Homo sapiens: one gene and its partner. Changing the gene in region 1 together with any one later gene gives a genetic interaction. Each region holds a gene or a part of one and is shown in the gene's direction. Other genes may lie near its edges. The genes, in order: CEP63 and NAA50.

Region 1 (3,827 bases):
GACGGGGTTTCACCGTGTTAGCCAGGATGGTCTAATTTTATGTAATTATATGGCACATGCAAAGAAGAAATCAAAGTGACATAGTGCATAGAGTTGAATGATGGTCAGGTTGGTTAGGAAAAGAATCAGTGATATAACTATGAGCAACTCAGATGACAAACATCCACAGAAAATCAGCCCTTACTATTTGCCTGATCCTGAGAATTGATGGTGTTTGGCACCAGGCAGATGGTGAAGGTATTACAGAAACACTTTGCACATTAGTAAGTTTACTTTATTTCTCACATAGGATATTACTGGTCCACTTCCCTCCTTTTTTTTTTTTTTTTTAAACAGGAATCTCTATCTTAGACCATTTTGATTTCTAAAATAGCAATATTTCTTATGTGACTATTTCATTATTGTGCTGCTGCCACCTGGTGGCCACAGTAGTGATGTCATACTTCAGTTTAATTTCTTTTTTTATTGCAAAGACACTATTAAGCCAAAAGATAGGCTGATATATTTTAAGATATAGAATACTGTAAAATATATAAAGGTTGCACATCGATTGTGACTCAATTGATTGCCACAATGTCTAGGTTGAATCCAGGACTATAATTTTTAGTTTATCATAGTCAAGTTATTTAACTCTCTAAGCCTGTTTTCTCAAAGTAATAGTATCTGTCTTTTATGAGTATAGTGAAGATTGATTTAGACAATGTGTACAAGGCAGCTGTTGAACATTCAGTAACTTAACTTCTAAGTATATTATTAAATAGTCATAGAAAATATATTAATGTATATTACTAAATATATTAATGTTTAAGAATAACATGACCTAAATAAGTATAATTTTACTAATGATAATTTTGAATAACTGTGATAGCACTGTCAATAAGAATAGCACTTTCCTACATGTTAGTTAAGTATCCGTGTATGGTTGTCAGGAGCATGCTACTTACAGTGGACATTTAATTGGCTGTTAGAACCCATGAAAAAGCTGGAAGAAACCTTAGAGAATATTGTTCATGCCCCTCATTTTGCAGATGTTAAAACAAGTCCGAGAATATAAAGCTAGTTAGTTGCAGAGTAGGACTGTATCCTGGGTCTCCATCTAGTGTGGTGTGGACCGTGTACTGCCTCCCAGTTCTCCTAGAGTGGACCAAAACATGGAATCTTGGTTGCATTGTAGTTGGACTGTATTGTGATTTGAAAGTGGAGTAAAACATGGGAACCTTTTTCTTTAGGTTTTTATTTTTGCAATTTTGGTGTAATATGTAGGATAAACCAACTAGAAAAAAAATCCTCCCTGTCACGTTTGTGCACAAATAATTTAATACTCAGTTTGTTAGTATCTTTAAAAATAGATGCAAATAAGGTGCAGTGGTTCTATTTTCCAGTCTTCTCATTCTCCTCTGTGTCTCTGGAACACCCTGGGCATGTCTCTCACTATATTTATCACACTGGGAAAGCCTTTTTGGCTCATTTTTTTCTGTCCCATACTAGACTATTAATACCTTGAAAGGGGCCATATCTTTCATCACTATATATCTAGTTGTTAGTACAACATTGAATTACGTGTTGAGTAAAATAATCTACTTCTTACAGCAGTATAATTTTTAGATGAGGATTAGCCCAGGGGCAGAACCTCTACACCACAGTCTGGTTATTGTCTTAAGGGTTTAAGGAAAAAGCATTTTGGAATGAAAAGTGGTTTGACATTGAACATTTTGAAGATTTATTATAAAAGGCGAGAAGCATACACATATTAATCAACACTACTGAGTTTAAGGGTCCTCTTTCCTTTCTCACTGTCACCTTTCTTCATGGTGTATCTTACCCTTTATTTTATATTTATTTATTTATTTATTTATTTATTTATTTATTTATTTGAGATGGAATCTCTGTCTGCCACCCAGGCTGTAGTGCAATGGTGTGATCTCGGATCACTGCAACCTCCGCCTCCCGACTTCAAGCGATTTTCCTACCTCAGCCTCCCCATGGCTGGAACTACAGGTGCATGCCACCATGCCCAGCTAATTTTTTTTTTTTTTGGTAGAGGCGGAGTTTTACCATGTTGGCCAGGCTGGTCTCAAACTCCTGACCTCAGGTGATCCGCCTCCCTCGGCCTCCCAAGTTCTAGGATTACAGGCGTGAGCCACCGCACCCAACTGTATCTTGCTGTTTATATGGCAGTCTTCTATCTCCCGTTCCCTCTTTCTCTGCTAGACCCTTCATGTAGTTCCCCAGCTGTGACCAGTTTGCATGGGGGAGAGGGTAGGTAAAAGAGGGAGGGGAGTTAAGTTCAGCCAAAATAATCTGCCACGTGCCATGTTGAAATGCTGCGTTGAGCTCTGCAGCTGCAGAGATGAATAAAATTGGGTTTCTGCCCTGGAGGGATGAATAGTCTAGTAAGGAAAAATAGTATGTAAAAAACTCACTTCCAGTGTGGTGCAACTCCTATGAAAGAACGTATTAAGCACTGGGAGCAAATGAAGTGCAGAGGTGGGAGGGCCCTGTGGCTGCCTTTCGGTGGAGAGAGGATGTTGCATGCAGGAAGCTCTATGAGCCTGTCTTCAGGAGTGAGTAGGCTTTCCCATGATAGACCAAAGAGTTTAATCTCAGTACACTTCGCATTTTTTATACTATCTCTTTAATTTTTAAAAAGCTATACTTTCCCTCTGACATGTGTGAACCCATTTCTTTCTCATTTTGTTAAGGGAGTTTGTGTATCCGTCTGCTAGAGAGATCCCACCTCCACCCCTGCTCACCCGACATTAGGAATTAGGCAAAGAACAATGAGATATTTGATATTTACACGGAGAGAGTGTCAACCGCAATTCAGATATTTTTAAGTTATTCTGTTTTAGTCCGAAATAGTTTGTTCCTAGTATTCCTGAAGTGATGTTCTTTGACTGCTTCTACAGTCATCTTAAGAAGTGCTGCATTTTTTCATTATTATGTATGCTTTCATTCACATTCTTAAGTTGTAAGTTAGAATGTTAGAACTGAAGAAATGAATTGTCTCATGACTGATATTTTTTTCTTTGTCAGTTGCCAAAACAAAGGGGATTTGGTGATGGAGGCTTTGTTAGAAGGAATACAAAATCGAGGGCATGGTGGGTAAGTTTGCTTTTTTTAAAATTAATTTTTTTGGTTAATACATGATTACATATTTATAGGGTTCACATGATACTTTGATACATACATATAATGTGTAATGATCAAATAAGGGTATTTAGTATACCTATCAGCTCAAGCATTTATCATTTTTTGTGTTGGGAACATTTCAATTCTTCTAGCTACTTTGAAATATATAGTAAATTTTTAAAGTTTAAGGAACCTTACTGTGCTAGTCACCCGACTGTGCTAATTACTTAACTAGTTACATACTAGTTACTTAGTAGTCACCTTACTGTGCTATTTAACACTAGAGCTTACTCTTCTACCTAACTGTATGGTTTGTACCCATTAACCAAACATTCTTCACCCCCAACCCCTTCCCAGCCTCTGGTAACCATCGTTCTACTCTCTACCTCCATGAGGTGAACTTTTTTAGACCCCACATATGAATGAGAACATGAGATATTTGTCTTTCTGTGCCTATTATTTCACTTAACGACCACCAGTTTTATCCATGTTGCTGCAAATAACAGGGCTTCATTCTTTTTTATGGCTGAATAGTATTCCATGATGGATATATTTCTGACATTTTCTTTATCCATTAATCTGCTGTTGGACACTCAAGTCAATTCCATATCTTGGTTATTGTGAATAATGCTGCAATAAACATGGGGGTACAAGTATCCCTTTCACATACTGATTTCCTTTCCTTTGGATAGATT
Region 2 (3,473 bases), about 21 Mb from region 1:
TGGGAAACCATGGTGTGGTGGTGGAAAAGAAAAGCTCCCTCAGTTTTTTGGAGGGAATAACTTAAAAAAATACTTAAATGGCTAAGTTTACTTGGTGCAGTTAAGAATTAAACTTGTCAATTTTAACATTGCTGTTACATCTGAAATAAACTTATGTGATGTTCTGGTAGTGATCTGTGATATCTGTAAATGTCAAAACTGTATTGTTGAATTCTGCAGCCAGCAACCGTACATACTCATTGTGTAGTGTTTCCCTTACTGCTTTTATTTACTTTCACATTTAAGATCTAATTTTAAAATCATTAAAATAGGCCAAGTGTAATTAAGGCATCCTAATTCAGATCTTCTGTGACTTGCTAGGTACAGTGCCCAATATCTACAATTCAGTTCCAATGAGAGGGAAAAAGTAAGATCCAAGGAACTGTCTTGCTGCTGTATTTTTAATGTAATTATTAGAAATACTTGACACTTTAGGCTGCAATCTAGTTAGTAATGTTTATTGGCTACAGACAACATATTCAGGTGTTTTGTTTTTCTTCCTTGTAAGGAAGGAGTACGGTAGTTCAATGAGTTGGGAATTGGCTTTTAAGCTTTTTATCAAACATGAATTTAAGATTTTTTCTTTAACAGAATTCAGTATTTAATATTTCTAGTCAAAATTGTTATAATTAGATTTTTGCTTTTTTCATTTAAGAAGCAATGAGTGATCCTTGTCTAGTGTGTCTCAGTTATTACTGTAGTTTAAAACAACAAACAAGTATTACCTTCCACAGTTCTGGATCAGGAATCTAGGAGCTGCTTAACTGGGTGGTTCTGTCTTGAGATCTCAGAAGGTTGCAGTCAAGCTGTTAGCCAGGACTGTACCATCTTGAAGCTTGACAAGGCTAGAGGAGCCATTTCCAAGATGTCTTGCTTACGTGGCTCTTGGGCTTCTGTTCCTCACTGTGTGGGTATCACACACAGTGCCTGATGCTCACGTGGCTCTTGGGCTTCAGTTCCTTGGGCACCAGTTGCCTGGTGGACAACTGGTATGTGGCTTCCCCTAGAGCAGGTGATATAAGAAAGTGAGCAGAAACCATACTTTTTTATGACGTAGCCTCAGGTGACATTATTTCTGCCATATTCCATGAGTCACACAGACCAACCATTGAATCAGCTTGGTATAGTGTGGGAGGGGACTGCACAAGGATGTGAATACTGGGAGGTGGATATCATTGGGCCCTCTAGGAGACTGGCTATCACTGCTCAGAGAAGATGCTGGGCTTCGTTGACTCCCAAGGTCAGGGTAGTTTTGGTTAGGTTGTGTTTTATTAGTCTCTAAAAGGAGTAGTTTTCTAAATGAGGGTTATAAAGCACTGCACTTTACAGTTATTCGGGATATAAAAGAAATAGTGGGTCTAAAGGCTGTGCTCTTGTGGTTGGGTTTTCAGTGGGGAGGGGAGACTAGTCTGTCTCAGACTGATGCTGTTCTCACTGATTTGAATATTTCTGGGAAATTGGATACTACAGTCACAAATAGGAACAGTAAGCCTATAGAAGTTTTTCAGGGAGTAAATATTTTCTATGGCAGTGTCCTGAATTGGTTCTCCCTTGCAAGACTGAACTGTAGGAACTTAGTCCTAGTTTATGATACAGCCAAGTAACATAGTCACATGGGAAAAAGAGCTTGAGTCAGATTTCTTAATGTGTGTTGTTAACTTGGTAGAACATTGAGAATTATTTAAGTCAGAGAACGATCTGTTACTGGGGCAGAAATTCTCAACCTTTTCAGTTCTCCAAAATTTAAGATACTTGATTTCTTAGGTAAAATGTTTTTGTTTTTGTTTTGGAGACAGAGTCTCGCTCTGTCGCCCAGGCTGGAGTGCAGTGGCGCGATCTTGGCTCACTGCAAACTCCGCCTCCCAGATTCAAGCAATTCTGCCTGAGCCTCCCAAGTAGCTGCGACTAGAAAGCGCATGCCACCACGCCTGGCTAATTTTTTGTATTTTAGTAGAGATGGGGGTTTCACCGTGTTGCCCAGGCTGGTCTCAAACTCCTGAGCTTAGGCAATCCTCCTGGGGCAGCCTCCCAAAGTGCTAGGATTACAGGCGAGCCATGGCGCCTGGCCAGTAAAATGTTTTCTATCTAGAATGAATCAAGGTATTTTCCTTGCTCAGTAGCTTCTAGAATAAGAAAAAAATAGCAGCAAGATCTGATTCAGAAATAGTTGGGAGCAGAAAGTTAATATGAAGGAGTTGCTACTTGTTAACAGCCTAGAGTTGAGATCTAGAAGAATTATTACCTTTTTAAATTTGTGATGAAAGCTTAAATCCAGCATTTGGGAAGTTACTCTATTGGCTGAACTATTTTGGAGTTTGTAAGCTTTGTATTAGATATTCCTGATTTAACTGAAACTAATTTGCCACATAGCTTTAATTTCATCCCAGTTTTACTTGTTTTACTGTCCTCAAAAACTCAAGACATCTGAACTCAAAGGATCTAAGCAGTATAAATTAAAGCACATGTTGAATCACTGTAGCTTTCGTAGGACATCTGATTATAATGCTTTTCTTTGTTTCTTTGTCCATACTGAACTTGTCTAGTTTATCTTTGAGAAACATTTGCTAGTATCAAAAATCTTCTGTAAAGATTTGAACAATCTTGAATTCTCCTTGTCACTAGCCATCTCTTCCCCTAAAGTATAATAAAACTGTCAGGTACTATATGTGTAATTGCTTATGCAGGTGAAATTTGAATACACAAACAGTAAATCCCAGTTCTCTTAGTAAGATGAAGGCTTTGTTATAGCACCTTTAAAACAATTTTATAACATCCTTCATTCTTATCACTTTCCTAAGTAAGAAACGATCTTCCTTTAGTGGATATAAAAGTTGTACATTGTTTCTGCAGATTTACTGGGTGCCTACTATTCTGAACTCTAGGGATACAGCAGTGAGCAAGGCAAAAAATATCTGTGACTTCTTTAAATAAAGGTAAGTAAAATTCTAGTTTAAGCAGAATTCATGTCTAAGTGCAGGTCATCCTATTTACTAAAATGAATCAGCTCCTTCAAGGATCTTGATTTTACCTTAATTTTGAATTCCCTACATTGACTTGTTTTCTCTAACATTGGCTCCAGTACAAACAAAAAGCCTTAATTCCCATAGGAGAACTGAGACTTACAAGTGGGAAAGGGAGTGCAAAACAGATACAAGTTCAGAATTTATACAGCAGAAACAATCTAACATTGTAGAGGTTCTTTTTTTTTTTTTCTTTTTCTTTTTGAGACGGAGTCTTTCATTCTATCACCCAGGATGGAGCACAGTGGCGCAATCTCGGCTCACTGCAATCTCCGCCACCTAGATTCAAGCAATTCTGTCTCGGCCTCCTGAGTAGCTGGGATTACAGACAGGCACCACCATGCCCAGCTATTTTTTGTACTTTTAGTGGAGACGGGGTTTCACCATGTTGACCGGCCTCTTCTCGAACTTCTG

What was found.
Region 2: changes in CEP63 (region 1) and NAA50 together harm fitness more than expected from each alone (negative genetic interaction), as found in Homo sapiens cells (one large-scale study listed by BioGRID).

Annotation. Positions count from the first base shown.
Region 1 is NC_000003.12:134,492,260-134,496,086, forward strand, and holds part of CEP63 (centrosomal protein of 63 kDa), read left to right. Parts: intron 1-3,036; coding exon of another isoform or gene 3,037-3,061; coding exon 3,062-3,105; intron 3,106-3,827. UniProt on the Homo sapiens protein: Required for normal spindle assembly.
Region 2 is NC_000003.12:113,715,689-113,719,161, reverse strand, and holds the end of NAA50 (N-alpha-acetyltransferase 50), read left to right. Parts: 3' UTR 1-2,704; downstream 2,705-3,473. UniProt on the Homo sapiens protein: N-alpha-acetyltransferase that acetylates the N-terminus of proteins that retain their initiating methionine. Has a broad substrate specificity: able to acetylate the initiator methionine of most peptides, except for those with a proline in second position.